Linked DNA regions of Homo sapiens. The protein of the gene in region 1 interacts with the protein of each later gene in a pairwise test. Each region holds a gene or a part of one and is shown on either strand. Other genes may lie near its edges. The genes, in order: KASH5, STBD1, TMEM14C and SLC41A2.

Region 1 (7,781 bases):
ATGTGACCTTGCCAAGTCTCTTAGCCTCTCTACTCCTTTATAAAATTGGAAATGATTATACTATTAATAGGGCAACCAGACTTGGCATTACTCCTGAATGGCACAATTTGATATGTATAGCACCACCCAATCTTGCCAAGAAATTGAACAACAGTCTGGACAAGGCCCTGGATCTACCTACCAGTTTATAAGAAATAATGATAGAGGAAAGTGGTGAACATAACCACAGGGAACAAGAGCGCAATCAGCCTAATCTGAACGCACCAATCCTACAGGACAAGGGACCTGCTTTCTTCCACAGAATGAGGGCCTGAAGAGTACCAGGGTCGGGGTGGAGGGGGCAGAAATTACTGTCAGATTAAAAGAAGTAAGACATTTCAACCAAAAGCAATGATGGACCTTGTTTGGACCCTCAATCAAAGTAAATGTAAAGAAATCTCTGAGACAACCAAAATGAAAAAGGAGCACAGGCCCGGTGCAGTGGCTCACCCCTGTAATCCCAGCACTTTGGGAGACCAAGAAGGGTGGATTACCTGAGGTCAGAAGGTCAAGACCACCCTGGCCAGCGTGGTGAAACCCCGTCTCTACTAAAAATACAAAAATTAGCCAGGTGTGATGGCGTGTGCCCGTAATCCCAGCTACTCTGGAGACTGAGGCAGGAGAATCGCTTGAACCTGGAAGGCGGAGGTTGCAGTGAGCCGAGATCACGCCATTGCACTCCAGCCTGGGCAACAAGAGTGAAACTCCTCTCAAAAAAAAAAAAAAAAAAGAAAGAAAAAGGAGCACAAACTTTCTAGTATGAGATGATACTGAGTTATTGTTAATTTTGTTAAGTATGATAGTGGTATTGTGGTTTTGCTAAAGGAAATAAGTCCTCAAGTAGGAGATAAATGCTGGAGTAACTACAGGTGAACTAATATGATGCCTGCAATTTGCTTTAAAGTAATCTACTTAAAACATCTGGAGGAGAGCCGGGTGCGGTGGCTCACACCTGTAGTCCCAGCACTTTGGGAGGTGGAGGCAGGTGGATCGCCTGAGGTCAGGAGTTCAAGACCAGCCTGGCCAACATAGTGAAACCCCGTCTCTACTAAAAATACAAAATTAGCTGAGCGTGGTGGCACATGCCTGTAATCCCAGCTACTTGGGAGGGTGAGGCAGGAGAATAACTTGAACCCGGGAGGCAGAGGTTGCAGTGAACCAAGATCATGCCATTGCATTCCAGCCTGGGCAACATGAGGGAAACTCCGTCTCAAAAAAAAAAAAAAAAAAAAAATTAGCTGGGTGTTGTGGCAGGTGGCTGTAATCCCAGCTACTAGGGAGGCTGAGGCAAGAGAATCACTTGAACCCAGAAGGCAAAGATTGCAGTGAACCAAGATCGCACCATTGCATGCCAGCCTGGGCAACAAAAGCAAAACTCTGGCTCAAAAAAAAAAAAAAAAAATCTGGAGGAGAAACATCTCAGTTTAAACAAAACCGAGAAAATGCATATAATTATTGAAGCTGGGTGATAGATAATGTGGATAACAGGCTGCTTATATTGTTCTTTTGATTTTAAAATTGGGGATAAGAAATGAGTCAACACATGCAAAATGCTCAGTAAGTGTTAGCGATTATTAACCTATCTAATCTTTACAGCAATCCCATAAAGTAGGTCCTAGTTAAGCTCCGTTTTTTTGTTGTTGTTTTTTCCTGAGACAGTCTCGCTCTGTCGCCCAGGCTGGAGTGCAGTGGGGCGATCTTGGCTCACTGCAACCTCCGTCTTCCCAGTTCAAGTATTTCTCCTGCCTCAGCCTCCTGAGTAGCTGGGATTACAGGCACGCACTACCATGCCCAGCTAATTTTTTTATTTTTAGTAGAGACGGGGTTTCACCATGTTGGCCAGGCTGGTCTTGAACTCCTGACCTTGTGATCCGCCCGCCTCAGCCTCCCAAAGTGCTGGGATTACAGGCGTGAGCCACTGCGCGTGGCCTAGCTCCATTTTTATAGATGGGGGAGCCACACTCAAAGAAATTAAAGCTGTGGTCCCACTGGAATGGTTGGAGGAATTAAATGGGTTAAAACATATGAAGTGCTTAGCATGAGGCCTGATGTATATCAATCAAGTGTTTAGCAAATATCTGCTGTTAATTTTGACATTACCACTTGCTGGAATGAACGTGACCAGCCATTCCTTCTTCTAGAACGGGAAGCTGCTTGCCGAGCGGGATGGAGTGAAAAAGAGAAGTCAGGAGCTGGCCATGGAGAAGGACACTTTGAAGGTGCCACTCCTTCCTAGTGCCTGACAACTTTCCACCACCCCGGGGCCATTTTTCCCATTTCCGGTTTTAGTGACTGCAGCCTGATAAGGGCAGGGTCTTCCATCAAGCTGTCAGGCTCCCAGGACCACCCAGGCATCCCTAAAATCCCTGAAGTCCTGGAACATCTCAGGAGGCTGAATACGTGGGGGTGCGAGAGAACAGGTGGGGCCAGGTGGAGGGCAGGACCAAGGGGAGTCCTGGGAGGCTGGATGGATGGACCGGCTCCTTTCTTGGCAGCGGCAGCTCTTTGAGTGTGAACACCTCATTTGCCAAAGAGACACCATCCTCTCTGAGGTAAGGGGCCCCGGGAGGGAAAGAGATTCGCTTTCCATGTGCACCAGCCACTTCCTGCCCCTGGTCTAGAAAGGGAAGTCCTACTTGGGTCTGATCCTTGGATGTGCAGCTGGAGAGACTGGAGGGTTTCCCCAGGTCCCAAGTGTGACCCCTCAGGGATCTAGAAGCCCTTCTGCCCGGTGCTCTCCCTTGTGCCCCAGCTCTTCCCTCAAGCTCACCCTGTCCCTTAACCCCCCAGCCAGTCCCCCCGCCACCACCACCCCCAGTGTCTTTGGGGAACTGGTCCCAGTCTCATTTGGCTTTCGGCTTTCCTAGCGCACTCGCGATGTGGAGAGCCTGGCCCAGACCCTGGAAGAATACAGAGTGACGACGCAGGTAACTCAGCGGCCCTCGCCACCCACCGCGGCCCTCGCCACTTCTCTTTTGCCATCTCTGGGACTTGCTGCCTCTCCTCCTCGTGCCTCTTTGTCAGTGGCCACATCTTGCTTCTTCCATCCTTGATGTATGACTGTATGACTGCATGTCTCCCCCTCTGTTTCTGTATCTGCCTTTTCACTTTTTCTCTGTTCCTTCCATTCACTTTCATTCTCTGTGGGTGTCTTCTCACACACCTCCTCTCCTTATCTTATTTTTTTTTTGAGACGGAGTCTTGCTCTGTCGCTAGGCTGGAGTGCAGTGGCACAATCTCGGCTCACTGCAACCTCTGCCTCCCAGGTTCAAGCGATTGTCCTGCCTCAGCTTCCCAAATAGCTGGGACTACAGGTGCATGCCAGCATGCCCAGCTAATTTTTGTGTTTTTAGTAGAGACGGGGTTTCACCATGTTGGCCAGGATGGTCTTGATCTCTTGACCTCGTAATCCACCCCTCTTGGCCTCCCAAAGTGCTGGGATTACAGACGTGAGCCACCACACCCAGCCTCCCCTCCTTATCTTTATGTGTCTCTGCGAGGCTCGTGTGGGTTCCTGTCTCTGCCTCTAGGTCTAGGCTGTCTGTCTCCCTAGGCAAGTCTTCTCTGTTTGGCTCTGGTCTTTACCAGTCTCTTAGCCCTCATGTTTCTCTTGCCTGTCTGTGAGTCTGTTTCCATCTATGTCTCATTTTTTCATGCATCTCTGCCTCTGCCTTCCTTCTTTTAATTGTCTTGGCTGTGCTTTTTTTTTTTCTTTCTTTTTTGAGATGGAGTCTGGCTGTGTCACCCAGGCTGGAGTGCAGTGGTGCAATCTCGGCTCACTGCAACCTCCACCTCCTGGGTTCAAGCGATTCTCCTGCCTCAGCCTCCCAAGTAGCTGGGACTACAAGCGTGTGCCACCATGCCCGGCTAATTTTTTGTATTTTTAGTAGAGACATGGTTTCACCCTGTCAGCCAGGATGGTCTCGATCTCCTGACCTTGTGATCTGCCCGCCTGGGCCTCCTGAAGTGCTGGGATTACAGGCATGAGCCACTGCGCCTGGCCTCTTGGCCTGTGCTTTAGCTTCTGGATTCCTGTTGCTCTCTCTCTTTGGCTTCCTAACATTCTGTCATGGCTTTCTTCCCCTTGTCCCTAGGCAGTATGTGTCTGGGGAGCCCAAAGTAGTCAGGAAAGGGGAAAGAACCCTGGAAGAGGAGCCCAGAGGTGGATGGGAGGGTGGGAAAAATGCAGAGCCAAATGTGCTCCCCACTTCCTCCTTTGCAGGAACTGAGGCTGGAGATTTCACGCCTGGAGGAGCAGCTGAGTCAGACCTATGAGGGGCCCGATGAGTGAGTGGAATTTCAAGGGGTAGGAGGAGGCAGGAGGGGAGCCTAAGGGCAGGGACACCCTGGCCTCCAGCCCCAAGGTGGGCAGGGAAGGGAGGCCAGCATGAGCTGACTGAGTGGCCACCAGGCACAGAGGCCATCTTCCTCCCTCCTTCCTGTGTGGCCAGGCTACCTGAAGGGGCCCAGCTGAGAAGAGTGGGCTGGACCGAGCTGCTACCCCCATCGCTGGGCTTGGAGATCGAGGCCATTCGACAGGTGGGCCTAACACCCCTGGAATAAGCTGCAGGCCACCAAGGCAGAATCTCCAAACATCTCCCTACTCTGATCCTCACACCAGCCTAGCCCTAACCCACATTGCTGCCAGAGGCTCCTATCGCAACCTTAGCTTTTCTCTAACTCTCTCTACCTCGGATCCTAACCCCAAACCCACTGCCAGACCCAGGCCTGTGCCAGACCCCAGTCTGATCCAGCTTTGACTCACCCCTATCTCGTCTCCCTCCATGACCATCTCACTCCTTAACTTCATCTCGAACCTAGACCTTGGTCCTGGCACCAAATCCTCCCCTGTTCCTGCTTCTGCCCACTCCCCAACCCCAGCCCCACACCAGCCCTTTTCTATCTCTCATCCTATTTTCAGCCGCACACCTAAACCTATTTCTATCTCTGACCTTGTTTTCTACCTTAATATGGCTCTCCCTGACCTCGGAAACAACTTCTGTCCCAGAAACAGGAAGTGGCAACTGCTGATCTCTCCAACCCTCTGTGTGGGGTGTGGCAGTGGGAGGAAGTCATCCATGAGACCAGTGAGGAAACTGAGTTTCCATCTGAAGCCCCAGCTGGGGGACAGGTGAGCACAGGAAAAGCTCTGAAGTCCAGGAGCTGGAAAGGGGCCAGGAGCTCCAGGTGCCGCCCTGGCCAGCCCATTCACTCACACTTTTGCTTGTTCCCCATTTGATGAGAAAATGTTAATTGAGGGCCCAGTGTGTGCTGGACACCCAGCCACAAGCCAGACCAGACACCACCCCTACCCCAGGGACTGACCTGCCAGCGTTGTAGACAAAGGTGAACCAAGCAAACACACAAGTTGCACTGTGGCTTTTATTGTTGGTTTGTTTTTTAGAAAACACTCTTGGGAATTACATTATTTAAAATCGTACTACTGTAGGAAGGGAATAAGTAAGTTGTTTATTCCAGCATTTTAAGGATATATTAAGCATTTATGTTTCAAATGTTAGCACCTTTAAGAAAAGCCAGCAAGCTCACTATGACATCTTTAACTCAGCAATAACCATTGGGGTTTTTTTTGTTTTTTGTTTTTAGAGACAGGATCTTGTCTTATTCTGTTGCCAAGGCTGGAGTGAACTTGACTCACTGCAGCCTCAATCTCCTGGATAAGCAATCCTCCCACCTCAGCCTCCCAAGTAGCTGGGATTACAGGAACACACCACCATGACTGGCTTTTTTTTTTTTTTTGAGATGGAGTCTCACTCTGTCACCCAGGCTGGAGTGCAGTGGCACGATCTCAGCTCACTGCAACCTCCACCTCCCAGGTTCAAGCAGTTCTCCCTGCCTCAGCCTCCCAAGCAGCTGGGATTACAGGAACCTGCTGCCACACCTGGCTAATTTTTGTATTTTTTTTAGTAGAGACGGGGTTTCGCCATGTTGGCCAGGCTGGTCTTGAACTCCTGATCTTAGGTGATCTGCCCGCCTCGGCCTCCGAAAGTGCTGGGATTACAGGCATGAGCCACCATGCCCAGCCTTTTTAAAATTTTTTTATAGAGTTGAGATCTCACTGTGTTGTCCAGACTGGTCTCAAACTCCTGGGCTCAAACTGTCCTCCTACCTCAGCCTCCCAAAGTGCTGGGATTACAAGCATGAGCCACTGCACCTGGCTTTTTTTTTTTTAATTAATTAATTTATTTTGAGACGGTCTCACTCGCTTCTCTGTTGCCCCGGCTGGGGTGCAGTGGCATTATCACAGCTCACTGCAGCCTCAATCTCCCTGGACTCAGGTGATCCTCCCATCTCAGCCTCCCAAGTAGCTGCAACCACAGGCATGTGCCACCATGTGTAGCTAAATTTTCTATTTTTTGTAGAAATGAGGTCTCCCTGTGTTGCCCAGTCTGGCTGAACTCCTGGGGTCAAGTGATCCGCCTACCTCAGTCTCCTAGAGTGCTGGGATTACAGGCATGAGCCACTGCTCTGGGCTCTCTCTCTATTTTTTTTTTTTCTTTTAAAGAAAATGTTGTAAACAGCTCTATAAACAAGCTGTATTGTCTTGAGAACTGCACCACTTCAAAGCTCTTTGCCATCCTTAAGGAGAGACTCATTTCTCTGATCACTTTTTCCCTGGTTTGAGAAAAGCTTTTGTTTCTCTTTGACACCAGAGCTTGTTTGGGTTCTCATTTAACTCTCCCAGTATCTCTGTAAGGCAGGCATCCTCATCTTGTTACTCATGGGAAACTGAGGCTCAGGGAGAAATCACATGCCAATGGTCACACAGCTTGTTGGGGACAGAGCCTCATCCCTCAGAAGTGTAGGTTAGATTGGGCTTCTGCTTTGAGCTGTCAGATGCCCCTGAGAGACAGGCTTGTCAAGGGGAAGACTGAGCCAGGCCTCAGAGTGCAACCTGCGATGGGCCCAGGGATACAGAGCTGAGTCCCTTGGGGCCGGGCCTCTCAGTGCTCAAGGCCTGATAGGAGAGACCCTGCAAATGGGTTGCCCCAGTGCAGAATGATCATTGTGCTAGAGGTGGGGGATGGGCCTGTGGGAGCCCAGAGAAGGGGTATCTGTGTCAGGTCAGAGATTGGGGAAGATATTGAAGGAAAACTGATACTTGAGTGGAAGGAAGGAAGGAAGGAAGGATGGAAGGAGGGAGGGAGGGAAGGAGGGAAGGAAGGAAGGAAGGAAGGAAGGAAGGAAGGAAGGAAGGAAGGAAGGAAGGAAAGAAGGAAGCCAGCCTTTGAGGCACTAGCACAGCCTGTGCAAGGCCTTGGCATAAAATCACGATATGCTTGAGGAGTAGAGGGTAACTAGGGGTGACTAGTGAGAGATGAGGCCAGGGCCAGATCATGAAAGGAAATCTCTGACAAGCTAACAGATTGTACTTTTCTTCATAAAGCCACAAGAAGGGTGGGGTCAGCTCCGGGCTTAAAAAGATCCCTCTGGAACCATGTGAGGGACCTACTGGAGGCAGGGAGGAGGCTGGAGCAATGGTGATGAAGCCTGAGCCAGGCCAGGGCCCTAGGGATGGAGGAAAAGGGACAGACAGACATAATTGGGGTGGAGGGACAGAGCAGGGGTCAGACGGGATGTGGGTGATGGGGAGGGAGGAAAGGAGGCAAGACTTGGAACTTGTGACCTTGTGAGGTGAAATCTTGAGGGATGTCTGGGGGCTGCCTGGAAGAGTTGGGTGCACCATCCTGGAGCTCGAGGATTGCGTTTAGAAAACAATGGCA
Region 2 (7,732 bases), on another chromosome or scaffold:
AGGATGAGATAATCTTTATAAAGCACTTAGCCTGGTGCCTGCATATTTTAGTTATTCAATAAACAAAAACAATAAAAAGAAGGCCTATTAGATGATAGCCTTGACATTCCAGGGAATAGAAAGATGTCCAAGCTGTGACCAGCAAGGGATTTATGATCTAAACTAGGGATGAGACAAACCTCAAAGATACTGATACCATAAGAGAAAACCTGGTGTGATCGAAAGGATCCCATTAGGAATAACAAATCCCAAGGGTTCTACGCTCTCTGTGCCAGCAACAAAAGGACAAGACCAAATCTCTTTCTTATTATACCCCACTGTGGAGAGGCAACAGGACTATGCAGAGACACCTCTTCTACTGGCCATGTCTTCTCCCAGTGGTCATTATCTACTTTCTCTGCTTTTCTTAAAACTCCAGCCAGATTTTCTTTCTCCCACTCAGCTGATAACCTCATTGACTACTTCCTTTGTGGCACAAAATGTCTCTTATTTTCATTCTTTTCTTTTTTTCATGCCCTTCTAATCTCTTTCCTTCATTGAAGGCCAATTCTTCCACTGGCATTCCTGACCCATCTCCCTCTTGTGCCTTATGAAAGTCCAATGAAAAAATATTTCCTCTGCTTCTCATGTCTTCAAGCTCAGTCTCCACTGGCTCTTTCCTGCTCCCAATCGTGCTTAAATCTCTCTTGGTTTATAGGAACTGCCCTGAGTCCTGGTCTATTTCTTTTCTTTTTCTTTTTGGGGGGGGGGGGTTGGTGGAAGGTGGGGGGGGGGGGTCTCCCTGTGTTGCCCAGGTTGGTCTCGAACTCCTGTCCTCAAGAGATCCTCCCACCTCGGCCTCCCAAAGTGCTGGGTATCCTGTTCTATTCTTAAGCAACCCTTCAATTTCTCTCCAACCTATTGCCTCCACGTTTCTCAAGAGAGAGATAACTCAATGCTGGACTTCTTATCCTTTCACAACATTTATATCTTAGCATTCTGAAATCCAACTTCCACCCCCACAAACACTCCAGAGCTACTGATGGCCTCTTATGTGCCAATTGCAACCATTTTCCCTTCAGTTCTCTATCAACTTCAGTTCTGCAAAGCAATGCCTCCATTCCCTCTCCTGGCCACCTTCTTGAACTGCTTTTCTTATCTGATTTTGGTTCTCCTTCTTCTCTGGCTCTTCCTTCCCACAGTCTTTAGTCTCTCTGACTTTGCAAACAGAGTTGCTTTTCATTGTTCTGTCCTCATCCCTCTAAGCCAGGATTGAGCAATCTTTTCTTGCATAAGTTTAAAGGAAAAAATATATAATAAAATAAACTTTAAAATATCCATCTATATCTATTCATACTTTATTAAATAGAATAATATCAATTAGAAAACGGGTTCTACATTATGGCCCATAAAATATAATCTCAAGACAGAATTGCAATATAAATAGCAACATGGAGGCAACTTCCCAATCTTTCTTCTTGCAATTGTGTCAAGGGCTCATCCATCCTTCATTTCTCTTTATAACATTAATCTTTACTATGGATTTAATTACCACATCTCTATGCAGAATTTCCAACATCTCCAGCCTTGATCCTCTTAAACTAAAGAAACCGAGTTCCAACTTCCTGCTCGTGCCTCCAATTTAACACGTCCCAGCAGAACTCATCATCTTCCTCCTTTGTCCGCACAACCGTTCTTGCCTTTTTTGCTCCCTGACAACACTATCTTCCTAGGCACTCACAGTTTTCTATATGGAGGCAAACATGATTGTTTTGCAAGTGTATAGCGATAAGCATGGGTATCATCAGTGCGGCAAGAATGTTTTTAGGATATGTGGCTATGAACCTTTAATATAAACATATGACTATGATTGGAGCATTTTTTAAAAGAGCAGCAACACAGAAATTAATGAGCCAGCACTTAAGTTTGGAAAAGCCAAAAGGAAGGCCAAATAATGTTCTTTAAAAATGTTGCATTAGCTTCTTGGGATTCCCAAAGAAAAAAGTAAATTAAAAAAAATGTTGCATGATCAATATGATACAATGTAAAAATAATTCTGATGGGTTGAGAAAATAATTTTTGGTATTATTTTAAATAAATGAATGGACATTTATGACAGCAATAAATATTAAGAGCCTTTTAGGTATTATAAGTGAATAGTGGGGCTTACATCTGAAGGATTTTACAGATTCTCTGGGATTTTTATCCCTTAGACAGGAGTCCCCAGACCTTGGTCTGAGGCCTGTTAGGAAGCAGGCTGCACAGTAAGGAGGTGAGTGGTTGGCAAGTGAACATTACAGCCTGAGCTGCACCTCCTATCAGATCAGTAGCGGCATTAGACTCTCATAGGAGCACAAACCCTATGTGAACCGCACATGCAAGGGATCTTATATTTTTATCAGATTTTTTGAGACAGTCTCCCTCTGTCACCCAGGCTGGAGTGCAGTGGCATGATCATGGCTCACTGCAGCCTTCACCTCCCAGGCTTAAGTGATCCTCAGCCTCCTGAGTAGCTGGGACTATAGGCGCCACTGCCTTGCCCAGCTCATTTTTGTATTTTTCCATAGAGACAGGGTTTTGCTATGCTGCCCAGGCTGAAAGAATCTTATTTTATACAGTGACATTCATTCTCTTAAAAATATAGCTTTACGGTTACTTTTTATTATACATAAAATGAATTTCAAGGAACGGTAATATCCACATGGGCTAAAAATGCATATGGAATCTACGTAAGAAAAATGCCAATAATGCTCTAGGGTGAAATTACCTGGGGCTTTTAATTCATTCATTCAACCTGTACTTCTAAGCGCTCACTCCGGAGAGGTTACAGGTGCTAAGAATTCAGCAGAGAACAAAGGACAACCATCCCCGCTGTCATTTACACTCTGAAGGGAGGAAAGAGAAATTAAACCACAGACACACAGATTATAGAGTGTATTAGAAATGACGCCCTAAGTGCTAATGAGAACAATGGAGCAGGGGAAGGATATAGGGAGTAGGATTGTAATTAAAACTGGGATTGTCAAGGAAGGGCTGGGCAGGGGAGGGGGTAGTGGGGATGCAGATGACACTTGTGCCAAGACCTAAAGGGGATGAGAGAGAGAGGATGTCTGCAGGAAGGATGACTCTAGGCAAGGAAGCCAGTGTGGTTGAAGGTGGCAAGATGGAGATGAGTGCACAGTGGTCATGGGGAACAGATCCTGTAGGGTCTTAAAGGTTCTTCCGTGTGATCTGGAGCAACTGGAGGGTCTTGAGCAGAGAACTGGGGTGTTTTAACAGGATCACGCTGACTGGTGGTTTGAAAGTGGCCTGTGGGAGCTTGCTGTGTTTTGTTTTGCAGCAATGGGAAGGATGTGGTTGCCACTTCCTGAGATGGGGAAGGTGGGGAGAGTAGTAGGTTTGGGGAGTTAGGTGGGGAGTTCAGGTCTGGATGAGTTGGGTTTGAGATGTCTATTAGACATCCACGAGGAGATGCCCAGTAGGCAGTCTTCGCCCTCACCTCTCCTCTACCTCCTCTCTTATGATTACAGAAGTTGTGGCCTGCATCAAGGCGTGCATCAGCCTTCCAGTAACCCCACTGGCAGAACCTTGCACCCCGTTAAGGGCTACTGTCCATTCGGAGCAAGGGGCACATTAGATAATTTGCCCTACCAGAGAGAGCAATTATAGCAATTACTCCAAGGCAGGTGTTTGGTATCTGTGGCCTTTAGCAGTTGAATGTCGGAGTCCAAGGGAAAGGTGTGAGCTGCAGACATAGACGTGGGGATCATCAGCTTGAAGCTGTTGTGCAAAGTCATCAGATCAGCAGAGGAAAGGATTTACAAAGAAATATATATAACACCGCACAGGGTTGTTGTCTTGTGAGGATTAAATTAAATACACACTTAAAACATCCGGAATACAGACAGTGCTTAATAAAGAGCTGCTGTTTTTATTAACAAACTTATCTGTAGGAGCTCGTCCATGGACAACATCCAGTTCATACAGATGCGTGCGCATTTCGCAGCAGCCATACACGCCCAAAGAGGACGAGACTGGATGTGATTGAGCTGACTGGCATCTTTAGATGGATGGTCCTCAGTCCAGTCCTTCCATTTTACAGGCGAGGAGGCGGAAGCTTGGGGAGGCTAAGCGCGCTGAGCTGGCGGCGGAGCGGAGCTTCCACTAGGGCTCCCAGTTTCCCCGCACCGCGCCCGCCGTCCTCCGGGCCACCCATCCCACCCGAACGCGCCACCGCTCTAGCCCGCGCTCCAGCCCGCGCGTCACCGACGCCCGCGGCCTCTCCCACCTCTAAGTTCCAGGAAGCTCTCGGCCTCTAGCTGACCGCGTTGCTGCTGAGCTTCCCTGGGGAGAAGGCGCCGAGGTGCCCGGTGCGGGCCGAGGCAGGGCTGGGCCTCGCGGGCAGCAGGCGGAAGAAGGAAGGGCGGTGGGGCAGGTCCCGGCTGCGCGGGGCAGTTGTGCGCACTTGGGTTCTTCACGCGGGACACACGTGGAACGCCGACCCCTGCGCCCCTGGCCGCTGGCAACTGGCAAGGCCGGGAACAGAAAGTGTAGGGACAGAAGAGCGCTGGAGTCTTCCCCGGGAGGGAGCCCGGGGCTGCAGCCCAGGGGCGGGGAGCGGGGCGGGGCTGGGAAAGTTGAGTACTGGTCGCTCAGGGCCGGGCTCCGCCGGAGTGCCCGGCGCAGAAACCGTAAAAGGCTGGAGCGGGCGGGGTAGGTGTGGCTCTGTGTGCGTGACCTGAGCCCCGGTCCCAGTCCCTGTAGTCTCCTGCGGCCGCGGCCTCTCAGCCATGGGCGCCGTCTGGTCCGCCCTGCTGGTTGGAGGGGGTCTGGCCGGAGCACTTTTCGTTTGGCTGCTGCGGGGCGGCCCTGGCGACACCGGGAAGGACGGGGATGCGGAGCAGGAGAAAGACGCCCCTCTTGGGGGAGCTGCGATTCCGGGAGGCCATCAGAGTGGCAGCAGCGGACTGAGCCCTGGACCTTCCGGGCAGGAGCTGGTCACCAAACCAGGTATTCTTCCCCCCGTGACTCCAGGGCACATCTGCCAGAGCTTTGAGGTTCATCGAGGAAGGGAGCAAAGAGACAAACCCACCTGGAGCTTTCCTAGGGGCCCATTCCTGCGGACGGGCTCTCCTAAGGGGACTGGGCCATCCCCACGCCCCTCGGTTTCCCAGGCTGGTTGGTACGCGCAGGCAGGTTTCTTGTCTGGTCCTCCAAGGGCCGCGCCCTTGCCGAGTCCCTCAGCGCCCGCGCCTGAGGACTTGGTCCTGCCCCTCCGGCGGGGATGAGCTCCTCCACTTGGCGGCGCTTGGTGCAGTGCGGGCGGCTGCAGTGGCGGCGCCCCTTCCCGGCCTTTGGAAAGGGGGGCTTAGGTTTAGGGGATCCTACAAGCCTCTTCGATCTCTGCCCAAGCAGGGACATTTTCTAAGTCCCAATCCGGGTAGTCTGACATCCTCCCATCGCACAGCCCATGAAGAGCTGGGTTTGGGAACACCCGAACTGCGGGCGCCTCCTGCTATCTGGATGCTTCTTTAGGAAGGCAAAGTTCAGGTTGGACTCTGGCCATGAAGGCTGTGGCTGAGGCCCTGGGGATGTGCCTTGGTCACCCCTTTCAGCACTGTCGGCAGTCCCCTCCACGCTGCCCCAGAATAGGGCCGGATAGTCATCCCTAGGAAGGGACTACTTAAATAGGGGACCCAACCCTGATGAGTAGAATTGACATCTGGGTTTAAATTTCTGTATTTTAGGGACCGTTTGCTAAGCAGAGAGCGAACACTGGCAGAAAAGCTTACCGTCCAGTGCCCTCCCTTGGCAAGCTGCCCATGCCTGGACAGAAGCCTAATGGTGAAAATGACATCTGTGAACTTTATTTTTAGCCCAGTGGTGTTCATGTGCAGCCATATGAAAATCTGCCCGTGTGCCTTTACTGTGATTGGTCTGGGATGCCTAGACAGTTCACTTATCTTTTTTCTGAAGACCAATCTCATGCTTTAGGTTGAAAAGTTGGGAATCCAGAATAATATTTGTTCATTCTCACTTCCAACTCCCACCATCACCGAGGCGGGCAAATCACAAGGTCAGGAGTTCGAGACCAGCCTGGCCAATATGGTGAAACCCTGTCTCTACTAAAAGTACAAAAATTAGCTGGGCGTGGTAGTAGGCGCCGGTAGTCCCAGCTACTTGGGAGGCTAAAGCAGGAGAATCGCTTGAACCCGGGAGACAGAGGTTGCAGTGAACCGAAATCGTACCACTGCACTCACTCCAGCCTGGGTGACAGAGCGAGACTCCATCTCAAAAAAAAAAAAAAAAAAGGGATAAAATGAAACAAGACTGTTGTCCCCATACCACCACCACCCCCACACCACATAAAACCACAGCTGTGCTGATTGTATGTATGATTTGGAGATTTCAATCTTGTAGGGAGCTATTTGGACTACCAATGGCATGGCCAAGAAGGAAACTGCATTTTTAGAGGACTTGGATTTTGTATTTTTAAGAACGTTTTTTAAAAAATGCTTACAATGGAAGGGGATACAAAACACCGTTTTGTTGGGGAGGTTCCTAACGCATATGGGATTGGCAAGGAGAAACCAGCCCCTTCCCCCAGTTCTCCCTCCACTCCTGCCCAGGGAAGCACTACTGTTCTCCGTATCTCCCCAAGGTGACAGCTCCTGCTGATCTGCCCGCAGGTCTGCGAGAGCCAATCCCTGCCCTGCATGCCTCCCCTGGGAGAACAAGTGTACTCTTCTGGTTTGTAACGTAGCCACGCAGCCCTTTGCCCCACAGCCTGGACAACATTCTTTGATGATAGGAGCCAAGCAACTTAACTTGGCTGCATGCCAGTATGGCCTGGACTGTGGAGACTGGGGACCATGGGGGGGTTACACGTCTGCCTCTACAGCTTACCACTTCATTTACACTTGTGCTGGCACACTGATACTCCTGGATGTCCCTTTTGTTGTCAGATATACATGTGTATTCTTAGAGCACAGTGTTGGGAGCATACTGGTTAATTAAGTAGTACTTGATTTTAATAGAGGGGGACTTTGTGAATTGCAGATTGATTAGTAGTAAAGCTTTCAGTAACTAAATCTATTTTCTCAGCCTGACTTTTTTCTTAAATGAACTACCTGACTCTATTACATTTTTCCTTTGATTTCTTAGAGCATCTTCAAGAAAGCAATGGACATTTGATTTCTAAGACCAAAGACCTTGGTAAACTGCAAGCAGCATCATGGAGATTGCAGAATCCTTCCAGGGAAGTCTGTGACAATTCAAGAGAACATGTTCCTTCTGGACAGTTTCCAGACACAGAAGCTCCAGCTACCTCTGAGACCAGTAACTCTAGGAGTTACTCTGAAGTTTCAAGAAATGAAAGCCTTGAATCTCCTATGGGAGAATGGGGATTCCAAAAAGGACAAGAGATATCTGCTAAAGCAGCTACATGTTTTGCAGAGAAGTTGCCTTCTAGCAACCTGCTCAAGAACAGAGCTAAAGAAGAAATGAGCCTCTCTGATTTGAACAGTCAGGACCGGGTTGACCACGAGGAGTGGGAAATGGTGCCTAGGCACTCATCTTGGGGGGATGTTGGTGTGGGTGGCAGTCTTAAGGCTCCAGTGTTAAACCTAAACCAGGGAATGGACAATGGAAGAAGCACTTTGGTGGAAGCAAGAGGTCAGCAAGTGCATGGGAAAATGGAAAGGGTAGCAGTGATGCCTGCAGGGTCTCAGCAAGTTAGTGTCAGGTTCCAGGT
Region 3 (7,780 bases), on another chromosome or scaffold:
CACTTGAACAAAGGAAAAGCAGAGGGTTTACACATTTGGGTCCTCCTTACTGCTGTGTCCTGCATGCATTGACTGGTGCTGGACCTCGGTCTTAAATTTCCAATTTGCTAACAACCTGAAACTTTCCTAAATAGTTAGGTGCAAGGGAGGATAAAGGAGACTAAGTTGCTTATGAAAGGTTTAAGGAAATAATAACATTTCCAAATAAGGAAGGGGCATAAAATATGAGCTGAGACTTGCTTGGGCCTGTCCAGACATGCCTGAATAAGCCAAAGCAACTAACTGGGCTAAATCGTAAGAACTAACAGTTGATAGCAGGCTTTGGAGTAAGATGTGATTATTCCTGGTGTCTATTTTTAAACCAAGACAAGGTTTGAAGAGAAGCTTTTCTACTTTCTACAACAGCAAAACTCCATCTCAAAAAAAAAAAAAAAAGCAAAAACCATGCTACAAAGGCCAGCAAAGCAGCTCATGCCTCTAATCCCAGCACTTTGGGAGACTGAGGTGGGCAGATGAGATTAAGAGTTTGAGACCAGCTGGGCCAACATGGTGAAACCCCATTGTGTCTGGACTTTGTGGGTTCGTCTTGCTGACTTCAAGAATAAAGCCACAGACCCTCATGATTGAATGTTACAACTGTTAAAGATGGTGGGTCCAAAGTTTGTTCCTTCCGACATTCAGACATTATCTAGTTTCTTCCTACTGGTGGGTTCACGGTCTCACTGATTTCAGGAATGAAGCTGCAGGCCTTTGCAGTGAGTGTTACACCTCTTAGAGGTGGCACATCTGCAGTTACTTGTTCTTTCTGGTGGGTTTGTGCTCTCTGCTAGCCTCAGCAATAAAACCACCAACCTCTGCAGTCAGTGCTACAGTTCATAAAGGTGGCACATCCAGTTTTTCATCTGCTTTCAGTGGGTTTGTGGTCTCACTAGCTTCAGAAGCAAAACTGTAGCCTTATCACGGTGAGTATTAAAACTCATAAACATTGCACGGATCTAAAGAACTATCAGCACCAACATTTATTGCAAAAAGCAAAAGAACAAAGCTCTGTCAGCCCAAGAAAACACCCAAGCACGTTTCCCCTACTGGCTGTGGGTGGCCAGTTTTTATTCCCTAATCTGGCCACACCCACATCCAGCTGATTGGTCCATTTTACAGAGTGCCGATTGGTGCATTTGCAAACCTTTAGCTAGACACAGAGTGCTGATTGGTGCGTTTACAATCCTTTGGCTAGATACAAAAGTTCTCCAAGTCCTGACCAGATTAGCTAGACACAGAGCGCTGATTGGTGCGTTTACAAACCTTTAGCTAGACAAAAAACTGCTGACTGGTGCATTTACAATCCTTTAGCTAGACACAAAAGTTTTCCAAGTCCCCACCCGTCCCAGAAGCCCAGCGGGCTTCACCTCTCGCTGGGAGTTGGGTGGGACTTTTTGGCAACTAGCCTGGGCACTCCGGGAGCTCCTCCCACACAACCAAGAGGAAAAGAGGAGGAGAGAGACAGAGACCCGCCATCGTGGCCAACGACCCCGCCAAGAGGGAACGGCGGTCCACGCACTGGACCCAGCCTCCGATCAAGCCCAGCAGGGGCCGGCAGGTCGCGCCAAGTGCGGGGCCCACCGAGCCTGCGCCCACCTGGAACCCGGGGCAGCGCAGCCCCAGTCCCCGCCTGCGCCTCTCCCTCCACGCCTCCCCACGAGCAGATGGAGCCGGCTCCGGTCTCGGCCAGCCCCAGGGAGGGCCCCGCACAGCGCAGCGGCGGGCTGAAGGGCTCCTCGAGCCTGGCCGATGCTAAGGAGGCACCGAGAGCAAGCGAAGGCTGCTAGTGAGAGGTGACGACGTGCTGGCAGTCCTCAGAGCCCTCGCTCTCGGCGCCTCCTCTTCCTGGGCTCCCACTTTGGAGGCACTTGAGCCCTTTAGCCCACCGCTGCACTGTGGGAACCCCTTTCTGGGCTGGCCAAGGCCAGAGCTGGCTCCCTCAGCTTGCAGGGAGGTGTGGAGGAAGAGGCGCGAGCGGAAACCAGGGCTGCGCGCGGCGCTTCCGCGCCAGTTGGAGTTCCGGGTGGGCGTGGGCTTGGCGGGCCCCGCACTCGGAGCAGCCGGCCGGCCGGCCCTGGGCAATGAGGGGCTTGGCACCCAGGCCAGCGGCTGCAGAGGGTGTACTGGGTCCCCCAGCAGTGCCAGCCCACCGGCGCTGCGTTGGATTTCTCGCGGGGCCTTAGCTGCCTTCCGACGGGGCAGGGCTCGGAACCTGCAGCCCGCCATGCCTGAGCCTCCCACCACCTCCGTGGGCTCCTGTAGGGCCCGAGCCTCCCTGATGAGCACCACCCCCTGCTCCACAGGGCCCAGTCCCATCAACCACCCAAGAGCTGAGAAGTGTGGGCGCAGGGCGCAGGACTGGAAGGCAGCTCCACCTGCAGCCCTGGTGTGGGATCCACTGGGTGAAGCCAGCTGGGTTAAGTCTGGTGGGGAGGTGGAGAACCTTTATGTTTAGCTCAGGGATTGTAAATACACCAATTGGCACTCTATATCTAGCTCAAGGTTTGTAAACACACCAATCAGCCCCCTGTGTCTGGCTCAGGGTTTGTGAATGCACCAATGGACACTGTATCTAGCTACTCTGGTGGGGACCGTGGAGAACCTTTATGTCTAGCTTAGGGATTGTAAATACACCAATCGGCACTCTGTATCTAGCTCAAGGTTTGTAAACACACCAGTCAGCACCGTGTGTCTAGCTCAGGGTTTGTGAATGCACCAATCCACACTCTGTATCTAGCTACTCTGGCAGGACCTTGGAGAACCTTTGTGTGGACACTCTATAGCTAATCTGGTGGGGACGTGGAGAACTTTTGTATCTAGCTCAGGGATTGTAAACGCACCAATCAGCACCCTGTCAAAACAGACCACTCGGCTCTACCAATCAGCAGGATGTGGGTGGGGCCAGATAAGAGAATAAAAGCAGGCTGCCCAAGCCAGTAGTTGTAACGCACTTGGGTTTTCTTCTATGTGGAGGAGGCTTTGTTCTTTCTCTTTTTCTTTTTGCAACAAATATTGCTGTTGCTCGGTGCTTAGGTCCTGTGTTGTCTTTACAAGTGGTAACGCTCACTGCGAAGATTTGCAGTTTTGCTCCCAAAGCTACGAAGACCACGATCCCACCGGAAAGAACAAACATATTCCAGACGCACTGCCTTAAGAGCTTTAACATTCGTTATAGAAGTCTGTAGCTTTGCTCCTTGAGCCAGTCCAAAGCTAGGGAGACCACGATCCCACCGGGAAGAACAAACAATTCCAGACACACTGCCTTAAGAGCTTTAACATCCACCACAGAGGTCTGTAGCTTTGCTCGTTGAGCCAGTGAGACAGCAAACCCACCAGCAGAAAAACTCCCTGAATACTTCTAAACATCGGAAGAAAAACTCTAGAGACACTGCTTTTAAGAACTAACACTCATCGCGAGGGTCTGCAGCTTTCTCAAGTCAGACCAAGAAGCCATCAATTTTGAACACACTGGCACGTTGTGATCTCTCACTATCTCCACTAAAAATAACAAAAATTAGCCTGGCAGCCAGGGGTGGTGGTACAGGCCTATAATCCCAGCTACTCAGGCAGCTGAGGCAGGAGAATCAGTTGAACATGGGAGTCAGAGGTAGTGGTGAGACAAGATCATACGCTGCACTCCAGCCTGGGCAATAGAGTGAGACTCCACATAAAAAAAAAAAAAACTTGGCTGGAATTCGCTTTATTCACTGACAATTATATTGGTCAGATTTGTGTATGTTGATACTTGTAGGGGATGGAGAGGGAGAAGTCAACGATGACAGCAAATTTTAGTGTAGAGCAACTAAGAGAATGGTGGTGCAGGAAACGGAATAGGAGTGACTCCAAGTGGGAATGGAGATAATATGCTGTGGATATTTTGGGTCCACAGAGCTGGGTAAAAATCAGGTTTAACTTACTCCCCATCCCCCTTTAAGATGCTTCTCAAGCAGCCTCACTCCCTAAAACAAACGGATATTTGGCTTTGAGCCACATTATTCTGCAGCCCCCGTATTTTCTTCCAGGCAGGCCCTTCCTGGTGTAGACAAGATCGGGCTTGAGTGACACTCCTCCCTGATGGCCTGCATCTGGTTTATACCCTGTAACTTGTTCCTCTATTAATGGGGTCCTTCAAAATCCAGCCTCAGATTCCCTGGTCCCGCAGCGGTGGCCTCACCTCTGGCGTGGCCGAGCTCACGTGGTCCGGCTTGTGCAAGTCCCAGGTCCAACTCCGGGTCTCCTGCTTTTGGCCACTCAGGATTGGACCTGGGACTGATACTGGTCGGCCCTGCAGGCGCTGCGGACAGGGGAAGCACAGAGATTCCCCGCCGCGTTCCCTGGACTCAGGAGCTCGCCGCGATGCCCCGCCCCACTCTCCACCCGCTGAATGCAGGGCGCATGCTGCTACTTGGCGGCTCAAGCCCCGCCCGCACCGTCCCCATTCTCTGACCGCCCCTCTCCCGGTACACTGCGCAGGCACAACAGAGCCGCTCCCCTCTCCTCGCCCCGCCACCGGGACGGAGAGCGCCCGCCGCTGCATTTCCGGCGACACCTCGCAGTCATTCCTGCGGCTTGCGCGCCCTTGTAGACAGCCGGGGCCTTCGTGAGACCGGTGCGAGTATTTGGGGATTATTCTTATTTTCTGCCACTTTTAACTTTTAGGGATTATTTAGGAGTTTCACGGCCGTCTGCTTTTCGTCCCCCCGATTCAGCGGGCCTTCAGGCCGTGTGGTCGGTGCTTTTCTCGTTGGGTATTTTCTGCTTTTAAAAGAAGTTGTGGATGCGCGGAGCCCCTGGGCTCCTGAGGCAAAGGCTTACCCATGTAGCATAGTGTTGCCTCGTTTCTTGGTGATTTTCTTGCTCCATCTCTTTAAAAGCCTCCCTTACTCGGTGCCGTCTCGAGTTAAGAACTGTGGGCAAGATCCCAAGCCCGCTGCCCTTCCCTGTTTTATGGAAACTTAATTCTTTTTTTTTTTTTTTTTGTCCTTGAGGGAGGGACTTGCTCTGTCGCCCATGCTTGAGTGCAGTTGCCTGAATATGTCTCATTGCAGCCTCTGCCTCCTGGGCTCAAGCCATCCTCCCACTTCAGCCTCCCAAGTAGCTGGGATTTACAGTCGCATATCACCATGCGCGATTAATTTTTTTATATTTTTTAGTAGACAATGGGTTTCACTATGTTGGCCAGGCTGGTCTTGAACTCCTAACCCCAGGTGATCCGCCCGCCTCGGCCTCCTAAAGTACTGGGATGACAGGCGTCAGCCACTGCGCTTGGCCTAATTCTTTAAACAGAATAAACGGGGTATGCATTGCTTTCATCTTTTGGCTCACTGGACACAGGATACTTTCTGTAAGAAAATAGAAGCTGTTTTTCCAAGGGTGTAGTGTCACATGTGAATATGACCACTGTTTCCGTATATTTTATCCTCTCCTACTACTGCCCTCCTAACAAGAACTGTGAGTTGGACGCAGAAGTTTCTAAAAAAGTTGAGCTTTGAAATTGGCTGTTGCAGCAGGGATGAAAAGCAACACCCCTACCTCCCCTCAAAAGAGACATTAAAGTAGTTGGATTAAGGGCACGGGAGTATTTGCTTTTGAATTTAGTGATAACATGGGTAGCTGATGAAATGACTAACACATTCCCTGATTTTAGAGCTGGTCAGTGGATCTTGCTGAGTTTCCCGTGGGCCTATGTGATTAAAACTGAGGTTTTCATGACAATGGTCAGCATCTGTTCAGGGTTTACTAGGTGCTAAGCACCTTTACATGTGACATCCATTGAATGCTCACTACAGCCCCAGGAAATCGGTACCAGTGTTATCCTCATGGTACAGTGAAGAATACTGAGACTTAGGTTGCGTAGCTTGCAGGTTGGACACACTTCTTTCTGACTGCTGGAGAGCTGTGCTTTTAACTACCTCTGATCCAGCTTGTTTTCTGCAGGTGCAGGCCTGGGGTAGTCTCCTGTCTGGACAGAGAAGAGAAAAATGCAGGACACTGGCTCAGTGTGAGTGCAGTAAATGGGTATGGAGTAGCCAGGAGCTTCTGGAAACCAGAGTTCCTTTCCTTAGCTGAAAAGAACCTTAAGAGTAGACTGCCTGGGATGGCATGGGGGATGGGAGGATCACTGGACCTGTGGGCCAGAAACTTGGGTTTGAGTCCCAGCTCTGGCTTTGCTGAGTTGTGTGACTCTCAGAAAGTCATCCAACCTCTGTGGTCCTTATTTTCAGTGATAGGACCTGTGGGGAATGATTACCTTTTAGTCCCATCCTATGACAGTATGGTTTGTTTTCAAAGCCAGGTTAGCACTGACTTCTCCCTCTTGTGTTTTCAGAGTGCCTTTGCATTGGTTTGGCTTTGGCTACGCAGCACTGGTTGCTTCTGGTGGGATCATTGGCTATGTAAAAGCAGGTAGGGTTTTGTTGTTACTTAGCCTCTTAACATCTTCACGTTGTCCCAGTGAAATGTGAATGCCCGTGTCCCTGAGAAGCAATCTCATTTGAGTCAGGTTTGCTGTGGGTCCCCAAGCTGGAGTGCAGGCTTCCTTGTCAGTCTTGCAGCTCCTGCCCTTGCCCTTTGGTTATCTGGTGAAGCTGAGCCAGGCCTCTTTTGGAATTACTTGTTTTTGCCTCTTTATCTACAGATAGGCAGGGGCGGTTGTAGTTTGTTATTATCGTTGACTGCCATTCATCAGCCACGACCCCCAAGTGCCATCTCTGGGCTCAAGTAGGAGGAAACCTCTGGCCTACACAGACTGGTATTTTGAACTCTCCTCGTTAGGCCAGGCAGGGGTGTGTCAGTGGCTGTGCTTGTGTTTGCCCCCTAGTCCTTGCCTGCATTCCCACCCCAACCCCTGCACCAGAATTCTTCTTCTCCAGGTCTTTGTATTTTTTTAATTGACTGGCCTTATCTCCTTCTCCTTTTGTGATTTGCTGGAGGTCCTGCCTGTACACAATTCCAGTCCTTCATGGTTGATCAGGCCTGATTAGAAAGAAGGCCTAGCCACAGTTCCATCTAAGGAGGGAAGATGGCCTTCTTTCCTTTCCTTAGATGGAAGTGCCCTGCCTATTAGAGGAGAGAAAAATGGGGTGGGAAGACCCTGACTTCTCTGAGAAGATAGCACACTCTCTGTAACGTCTTCCTGCTTGAGTCCACCTTGGCTATGAGCTGTGTTGAGAGTTCTCTGTGCTGTCCTCCTTTGTAGGGCAGCGGTCTGGGGGATTCCGTTAGTGAAATAAGTGCCTGACATTACAATGCAAGCTGTGTTTGCTTCCCTCTAGGCAGCGTGCCGTCCCTGGCTGCAGGGCTGCTCTTTGGCAGTCTAGCCGGCCTGGGTGCTTACCAGCTGTCTCAGGATCCAAGGAACGTTTGGGTTTTCCTAGGTATGTCTGCTTTGGCGTCTCCTTAGGGCAGCTATGTATCCAGAATACTCTTTTCCAAAAGACCCTGGTTTGGTGGGATGGGGTGAGTTCTTCACACTTCACTTACGACAATTTCACTGCTTCTACCAAGTCCTCAGAAAGTTTTAAAATGAGGGTGCAGAGGCAGGAATTATGCTGGTTTCTGTTTATCTTTTACATACAGAACATGGAAGGATTTTCATAGCTCGTGACTATATTTACCCAGTAGCATTAAAATTCTATCAGGCAAATGTATCAACCGTTGAGGTTGCCCACTGAAGACCTTTGGCTTCAGCATCACTAAACTATCACACGTCTGGGTTAGGTTTGCATCTGAATTGCGATTT
Region 4 (7,823 bases), on another chromosome or scaffold:
CTCCTGTCTTAGGACCTTTGTGCTTGCTGTACTTTCCCCAGGTATTATTACTGTTCCCTCACTCCTTTTTGTTCAAGCCATCAAGGTCTCCCTGGATTAGTTTATATAAAACAGTCCCCGCTCCTCTCCACACCTTCCCCACCCCGCCCCCAAACTCTCTAACTCTTTAACTCTATTTCTTTTCATAGTAGTTATCACCATATACCTAGATATATATATTTGCTTATTTGTTTATTAGTTGTTTATTTTCTTTCCCCATTTGAACATGAACTCTGTAAGGCAGGCATTCCTTTATGTTGTTCAATACTGTATTCCCAGAGCATAGGACAAAATGTGGCATTTAGCTAAGTGCTCAAAAAATATTTATAAATGAATGAATGATGATTTATATTTGGCACAAAAGAGGCCCACAATAGCTACCTGTTGAATGAATGAACAAATGAGTATTGCAGAGATTCCCAGGAAGGGCACTGATAATGGGGGTAGGGGCAGAAACTAGCACATGTGTCTGGAACATTGGCTGCATGGGCTGCATGTCCCCTGAATGATGGTTTTTCTCTAGTTCTTTTTCTTTGTGGGCATTTATATGGTTTGTGGGACCACTTTTAAGTAGGCCACATGGTGGTTCTTGAGCCTCAGTGATCACCAGAAATATCCATAGAGATTCTTATTTAATGGGTCTGAGGTAGGTCTTGGGAATTTGAGTAACTTTGAGCAAGGATTTAACCCTCAGTTTCCTCGTATGTAAAATGGGATTATAACATCATTTTATAGAGTGTCAAGATTAAAGAAAATCATCTGTGCGAAGTGTCTCACACATAGTAAATATTAGATTCCCTTTGCTTCTGCTCAGGTTTTTGTTTTTGTTTTTGAGATGGAGGCTAGCTCTGATGCCCAGGCTGGAGTGCAGTGGCGCAATCTTGGCTCACTGCAACCTCCACCTCCCAGGTTCAAGTGATTCTCATACCTCAGCCTCCTGAGTAGCCGAGACTACAGGTTCACGCCACCACACCTGGCTAATTTTTGTATTTTTAGTAGAGATAGGGTTTCACCATGTTGGCCAGGCTGATCTCCAACTCCTGACCTCGAGTGATCCACCTGACTCAGCTTCCCAAAGTGCTCGATTACAGGCATGAGCCACCACACCTGGCCTGCTCAGGTTTTCTCTGAAGTTTAGAGGTTAAATCTTATGAACAGTTCATATTATGTGCTCTCCTAAAATTTAGTTTTGATTCACCTCAATCCAGATCTCTACTCTGAGTTGCAGTTTTTCAAACATAGAGTCAGTATCTTCATTTGAATGTCTCATAGGGGTATCAAACTCAACATATATAAAGCAACTCAAAATTGTCCCCTTCTGATCTCCTCCTCCACATTTCCCAAATCAGGAAATGGCATAAACTCAAATTAGAAACTTGGGAGTCATTTTTTGACACTTTTTCGCCTTTACCTTCCATGCATTTGATCAAATCCTTACAGTTCTAACCCTGACCTATATCTTCAATCCACCATCATCTCCTAATCTCCATTGCCTGCAAACTGGTTGTCACACATCCTCTGTTGCACCCTTCTTATTAATTCTCCACTCTGCAGCCGGAATAATCTCTTTTTTTTTTTTTTTTTTTTTTTTTTAAGAGACAATGTCTCACACTCTGCTGCCCAAGCTGGAATGCAGAGGCACGATCATAGCTCACTGCAGCCTCGAGCTCCTGGGCTCAGTCAGGTGCGTGCCACCAAGCCTGGCTAATTTTATTTTATTTTTGTAGAGATGGGGGTCTTGCAATGTTGCCCAGGCTGGTCTCAAACTCCTGGCCTCTAGTGATCCTCCCACCTCAGCCTCCCAATGTGCTGGGATTACAGGTGTGAGCCACTGCATCCAGGATCATCTTTTACAAATGCAATTTTTCATGTCCAGATAGGACCTTTTCAACTCTTCATTGGCTTCTTTTGTCTTTAGGATTAAATCCAAAGTCCTTAACCTGACCCTCAAGGGCCCGCCCACCTCTCCCTCCCAGGTAGCTCTCTCAGTCTAAGCACAGTGGCCTTTTCCCAAAGCCTTCACAGACAGAGCCTCTTCCTACCAAAGGGCCTTCAAACCTGCAGTTTCCACAGCTAAATGCACTGCCCACCCCACCCCCTTCTCTATGTTGCCTGCCCTAACTCCTCCTTATTCTTCAAGGCTGAGATTAAATGTCACTTCCTCCAGGAGATCTTTCTTACCCCCTAGCACAGACACGCTCCTTTGTTATACACTCTCATAACTCTCAGGCTTTTTTCCAGCAATCACAACAGCATCACCACACAGCCTCAAGTCCAAGCCACTTGCTTCACATTTGAAGTTGCCAGCTGTCAGACGGGAGATGAAGTAGAAATGGGATTGTTGTTGTCTGCACCCATTAGGACCCAGTTTTTTACAAGGGGGCATTTCCTCGCCCGATTCCAATGTGAGTTATTTTCAGGGCTGAAATTTGATTTAAATTTGGATTCCAACTTGAAGCTTAACATATCTCCAAAGTACACACTACTTTGCGGTACTGAATGAAGAATGTAAGTAGAAGGTTGCCTGCCACATGCCATGTAATGCTCTGAAGGACGGTAGAAACCACCAGCTCTCTCAGAAAAAAATGGTGGAAGAATTTTCAAAACCAAGACAGGCTGGCTTCTGTATATGCTTTGTGTAGAAATCTTGAAAGACTACACACTCAGGGGAGGAACACATATTGGGTGGAACTTCTGCCAAACTTTCAAGAGCAGCTACTTTCTAATGATCTGTAATTCAAAAAACAACCAGAACAAAAACCAGCTGGAAATGCAGTCAAAACACTGCTTTTCCATATTCCTTGCAATTATACTTTCATTTTTAGGTGGTGAGGAACACCAGGATGAGTCATTATAAAAAGCATGACTGCAGATGGCCAAGAGTGATACCGAAGCACCCTTCACCCTGAAGGTTAAGGTTAAAGCTCAAAGTCTGATCGCAAAGCATAAGGAAAAAAAAAAAGAACATGGATAAATGTATGCTGGTGTCCTTCAGCACCAGAAAAGCTGCTACTAAATCACTGGTGTGGCTTGGAATTGGTAGAAGCTTTGATTTGAGGAAAAGAGTATCATTAGCTGTGTAATTTTGAGTTGTTGTTTTAGAGACAAGGTCTCATTTTGTGGCCCAGACTGGAGTGCAGTGATGCGATCATAGCCCGCTGCAGCCTTGAACTCCTGGGCTCAGGCGATCCTCCCACCTCAGTCTCCTAGCCACTCCAGGTCTCGCTGTGTTTGCCCAGGCTGGTCTCAAATTCCTGGCCTCAAGCGATCCTCTCGCCTGGTCCTCCCGAAGTGTTGAGGTTACACGCATGAGCCACCAATCCTGGCATTATGGCATTAGCTGTGTAATTTTTAAAATAACTGTCTTCGGACCAACACCTTTCTTTTGTTCACTGGAGTATCCCTGGGGTGTGTCTCATTCCCTGAATCATACACAGTAGATGCTCAATAGTTTTGTAAATAAAATAAATGAGCTCTCGGATTTACATGCAGACTTTGGATCAGTTTGATCTAGGTTTAAAAGCAAGTGTGGGGAAACTTGAAAAGCCTGGCACCCCAGCCAACTCTTCAGCGCCCCATGCGCTTGGCGCCTACACCTGCCTGGCACGGGGAGGGTGCTATGGGGCTGCCCTAAACCTCACCCCCTCCTGCGGTGGTTCCTGCCCGTCTCGGCTCCTGCACCGCCCACACTATGCGCTGCTGGGCCGAAAGACACGTGGTTCGGTTTTAACTCCAGTCTGCAAGAAACATGACCTCAGCCAAAAAGAGGCCGCTGGTCTGAGAAGAGAAATCATGAGTCATGGATTCGGGGGTTCGGACCTTGGAGCAGGCGGTGAAGTGGGCGTGCGTGGGCTGGTGGGGAAGAGGGATGCCGAAGGAGGCCACAGCCCTTCTCTCCTGGGCAGGCTCCCCAGAAAACTGCCCCCTTGCCGTCATCCAGCGCCCCCGTTCCCGACAGCTGTCTGCCAGGGCGCGGCCGGGGTCCGGGCGGGGCGGTGCTGTCGCTCCGGGTCGCCGCCCCGCGGGCCACATCACCAAGGCCCGGGCTTCCCCGGCGGCGGCGCGGCTGCGCTTGCGCGGGGCTGCCGCGCGGGGGCGGGGCGGCGGGGAGTCAGGGGGCCGCGGGCGCCGACGGCCGGGCTGTCAGCTTGGGGCCGCAGCCGCGCGAGGAGGCGCGGGAGCAGGAAGGAGCTGTGGGCTGGGAGCCGCTGTCCTCCCCGCCACCACCGGTGCCGGGCACCAGGTGAATGCCCCTTCCATCCCCCGCCCCTGGTGTCTCGGTCTGGTCTGAGGAGACGGGGACCCTTCTCACACCGGCCGCTGCCGCCGCCGCGCTCCGGAACAGGTGACCATGGAGGGGAAGTCTCGGCTTCGGCCGCGGCGCCGCGTTCGGGCGCATCAGGTGCGGGAGGGAGGTGGGGCCGAGAGGCCTGGGCTCGGGACCCGGCGGCGGGGGCGCGGGGAGCAGAGGGAGCGGCCCCGCCCGAGCAGCCGTGCCCCCTGCGGACGCCTCTCCGGGCCGCCGGGCAGCGCCCGAGCCCAGGCCCCCGCGCCTGCCCCACCTCGGGCTGAGGGAAGCTGTTCCGCGGCCACCGCGGACAAGCGGTCCCGGGCGCCCAAGGCAGGGACAGGCGGCGGGTGGTGTATGAGTGATGGCTGAAGGTGAGCTGGGATGGAGATGCTGCGAGGCTGGCTCGGGCACACCCCAGATGCCTGTTCAGGGCTCCGCGAGTGCCCCGTCACCCTTTTCTTTCATTCTTCTCTTTATATACACGGAGCATATCTCAAATTTAAAAGCCCAAATGCTCATTTACAGAGAGAGATGACACATATCTATGTGTTACCGATATACATTGATGTGTATATTACGTATATATGTCATCTTTTTTTTGTAGTGACAATTTTTAAATTGAGATATACATCACATGCCATAAAACTCATTCTTCTAAAGTGTGGCTTTTAATATATTCACAGAGTTTTCCAAATATGACCACTATCCAGATCATCATCCCCAAAAGAAACCCTGTCTCTCTTAGTAATCACTCCTCATTTCCCCTTGACCCCACCCCACTAGCCACCACTAATCTACTTTCTGTTTATATGGGTTTGCCTGTTGTGGAAATCTCATATAAATGGAAGCGTACAATATGTGGCTTTTTGTGTCTGGCGTCGAAAGACATACTGTAATGTTTTCAAGTTTCACTCATGTAGTATGTATCAGTACTTTACTTTTTATAGCATATTAATATTGTTGTATCAGTGTACCACATTTGTTTATTCATCAGTTGATGTACATTTGGGTTGTTTCCAGTTTTTGGCCATTGTGTGTAATGCTGCTATGCACATTTGTTTACACGTTTTTGTGGACATGTGTTTTCAGTGCTCTTGGGTATATACCTAGGAGGGCAATTGCTCCGTGTTTCACTTTTTGAGGAACTGCCAAGCAAAGCAGCTGTACCATTTTACTTTCCCACTAAGCAGTGTATGAGGGTTCCGATTTCTTCACATCTTCCCCAAGGCTTGTTACTTTTTTACTGGTTATTTTTTATGATAGCCATCGTAGTGAGTGTGGAATGGTATCTCTTTGTGGTTTTGATTTGCATTTCTCTAATGATTGGGGATGCTGAGCATCTTTTCATGTGCTTATTGGCCATTCATATATTTTCTTTGGAGAAAATGTTCATATCTTTTACCCATATTTTAATTGGGTTGCTTGGCTTTTTATTTTTATTTATTTATTTATTTATTTATTTGGAGACTGACTCTCAGTCTGTCACCCAGGCTGGAGTGCAGTGGCACAATCTTGGCTCACTGCAACCTCCACCTCCGGGGTTCAAGCGATTCTCCTGCCTCAGCCTCCCAAGTAGCTGGGACTACAGGCACACACCACTATGCCCGGCTAATTTTTGTATTTTTAGTAGAGACGTGGTTTCACCATGTTGGCCAGGTTGGTCTCCAACTCCTGAATTCAAGTGATCTGCCCACCTCGGCTTCCCAAAGTGCTGGGATTACAGGCATAAGCCACCACGGCCAGTCTGGGTTGCTTAGCTTTTTATTGAGTTTTATTGTTCATTTATGGAAAAAAATTTCTGTTAATAGGTTTGGATACTGGCACTGACTTGAAAAAATCCAACCAATCTGATACCGAAAAACTTAATGCTTATTCTTGGGTAAAGGTTGAATAAGTGCCACTTCATTCTTTAAGAATACCCTACCTGTTCATTCTGGACATCTTACTGACCCCTTTACATTTACTGCCCTGGTATTTTGAGCAAAGCTACAGAAGGCATATTCCTGACTGGAGTCAAGAGAGACCACCCTTAATTGGTATTTTCATATATTCTATGCTCAATTTGAAAATCCCAGTTATCACTTTAATTACAAAAAATTTATATTAGTGGCCAGCTGAACAAACTAACAATAAATGGCAAGCACAAATCACTCAAAAATTTATGTTTAACTTCTCAGTAAAGTGGAGAATCTTGTTTTCTTAAGTTTGTGCAGTGTAGTTTTTATTACAATTATGTTCATGTGTGGGTGGTAAATAAATATTTTTGATGGCACTAAAGTTAAGAGCCACTTACAGCTAAATGAATGCTGCTGTGCTTATTTCATGGTTAATTTCCGAGCGCACACAAATTCAGCATCAGGTCTTTCATGGCCAAAAAAAAAAAAACCACTAAAAAGACCTGATGTTACCTCCCAGGAATTCAAACTCAATTTTCCACTGATCTAATATGATTGTTGTTAAAGAAAAAGATTATTCGATGATACTTGTTAAAATGTGGTAAAAAAAAGTCTATTCAGGACCATTGTGATAGGTAAAGGGACCATGGAATGGGATTTTGCAGTTTGGGAGGAAGACTAGGCTCAATTCTGAATACGGTGTGGGCAAATGGGAATTTATAGCCAAGGAGCAGTGTCATGGTCAGTGGACAGAAAAGTACTGAGAGGAAACACCGGGGGTAGTGGATATTCAGACCAAACCAACCTAACAGGATTCTTGCTGAAGACAGGCCAGAGTGATCAGACACCACCTGGGGGACAGTGGAAGCTGAGGAACCTAATCAGGTTGTGAGGGTAATCAGGTAGCGAGGGTAATCAGAAAGCGAGGGCCAGCTGGGTGCAGTGGTTCATGCTTGTAATCCCAGCACTTTGGGAGGCTGAGGCGGGCAGATCACCTGAGGTTGGGAGTTCGAGACCAGACTGGCCAACATGGTGAAACCCTGTCTCTCCTAAAAATACAAAAATTAGCCTGGTGTGCTGGCGGGCACCTGTAATCCCAGCTTCTCAGAAGGCTGAGGCAGGAGAATTGCTTGAACCCAGGAGGTGGTGGAAGTTGCAGTGAACCGAGATCACGCCACTGCACAGAGCAAAACTTCGTCTTAACTCAAAAAAAAAAAAAAAAAAAAAAAAGCAAGGGCCAAGAGTCAGGGGCTGTTGCTAAACTCACTTGACGAGGTTCTTTGATAAAACTGCATTTTACAAGGAAGTGCACAAATGGGCCTAGAAGGTTCAGGGGCCTGAGTAAAATTTCGTCAAGAAAAGAATCTTTCTCATTGTTGGAAAGTACACTTCCCAATTTCCAAAACTTTATAGAAAATACAAGTAAAGGTTTCCAAATGGAAATAATAGATAAGCAACTGATAAAAAGCATGTGAAGCATAGCCTAACTCTGCTTCAACCTATACATTACAAAATGATGGATATATGAATTAACCCTTTTATGCCACTGCCTTTATTTAGAAGAATGAGGCTGGTAATTTCGGGTTTATAACCCAAAA

The links.
Region 2: the proteins of KASH5 (region 1) and STBD1 interact in binary tests that used the Homo sapiens proteins (3 or more experiments, as listed by UniProt).
Region 3: the proteins of KASH5 (region 1) and TMEM14C interact in binary tests that used the Homo sapiens proteins (3 or more experiments, as listed by UniProt).
Region 4: the proteins of KASH5 (region 1) and SLC41A2 interact in binary tests that used the Homo sapiens proteins (3 or more experiments, as listed by UniProt).

The regions. Positions count from the first base shown.
Region 1 is NC_000019.10:49,404,706-49,412,486, forward strand, and holds part of KASH5 (protein KASH5), read left to right. Parts: intron 1-2,180; coding exon 2,181-2,258; intron 2,259-2,534; coding exon 2,535-2,591; intron 2,592-2,906; coding exon 2,907-2,966; intron 2,967-4,261; coding exon 4,262-4,326; intron 4,327-4,490; coding exon 4,491-4,578; intron 4,579-5,047; coding exon 5,048-5,170; intron 5,171-7,781. UniProt on the Homo sapiens protein: As a component of the LINC (LInker of Nucleoskeleton and Cytoskeleton) complex, involved in the connection between the nuclear lamina and the cytoskeleton.
Region 2 is NC_000004.12:76,302,001-76,309,732, forward strand, and holds the start of STBD1 (starch-binding domain-containing protein 1), read left to right. Parts: upstream 1-4,732; 5' UTR 4,733-4,769; coding exon 4,770-4,989; intron 4,990-7,143; coding exon 7,144-7,732. Other genes in the region: FAM47E-STBD1 (uncharacterized protein LOC100631383), read left to right, coding at 7,144-7,173. UniProt on the Homo sapiens protein: Acts as a cargo receptor for glycogen. Delivers its cargo to an autophagic pathway called glycophagy, resulting in the transport of glycogen to lysosomes.
Region 3 is NC_000006.12:10,718,594-10,726,373, forward strand, and holds the start of TMEM14C (transmembrane protein 14C), read left to right. Parts: upstream 1-4,476; 5' UTR 4,477-4,648; intron 4,649-5,962; exon of another isoform or gene 5,963-5,976; 5' UTR 5,977-6,020; coding exon 6,021-6,040; intron 6,041-6,367; coding exon 6,368-6,444; intron 6,445-7,313; coding exon 7,314-7,415; intron 7,416-7,780. UniProt on the Homo sapiens protein: Required for normal heme biosynthesis.
Region 4 is NC_000012.12:104,954,649-104,962,471, reverse strand, and holds the start of SLC41A2 (solute carrier family 41 member 2), read left to right. Parts: upstream 1-4,181; 5' UTR 4,182-4,384; exon of another isoform or gene 4,385-4,441; intron 4,442-7,482; exon of another isoform or gene 7,483-7,823. UniProt on the Homo sapiens protein: Acts as a plasma-membrane magnesium transporter. Can also mediate the transport of other divalent metal cations in an order of Ba(2+) > Ni(2+) > Co(2+) > Fe(2+) > Mn(2+).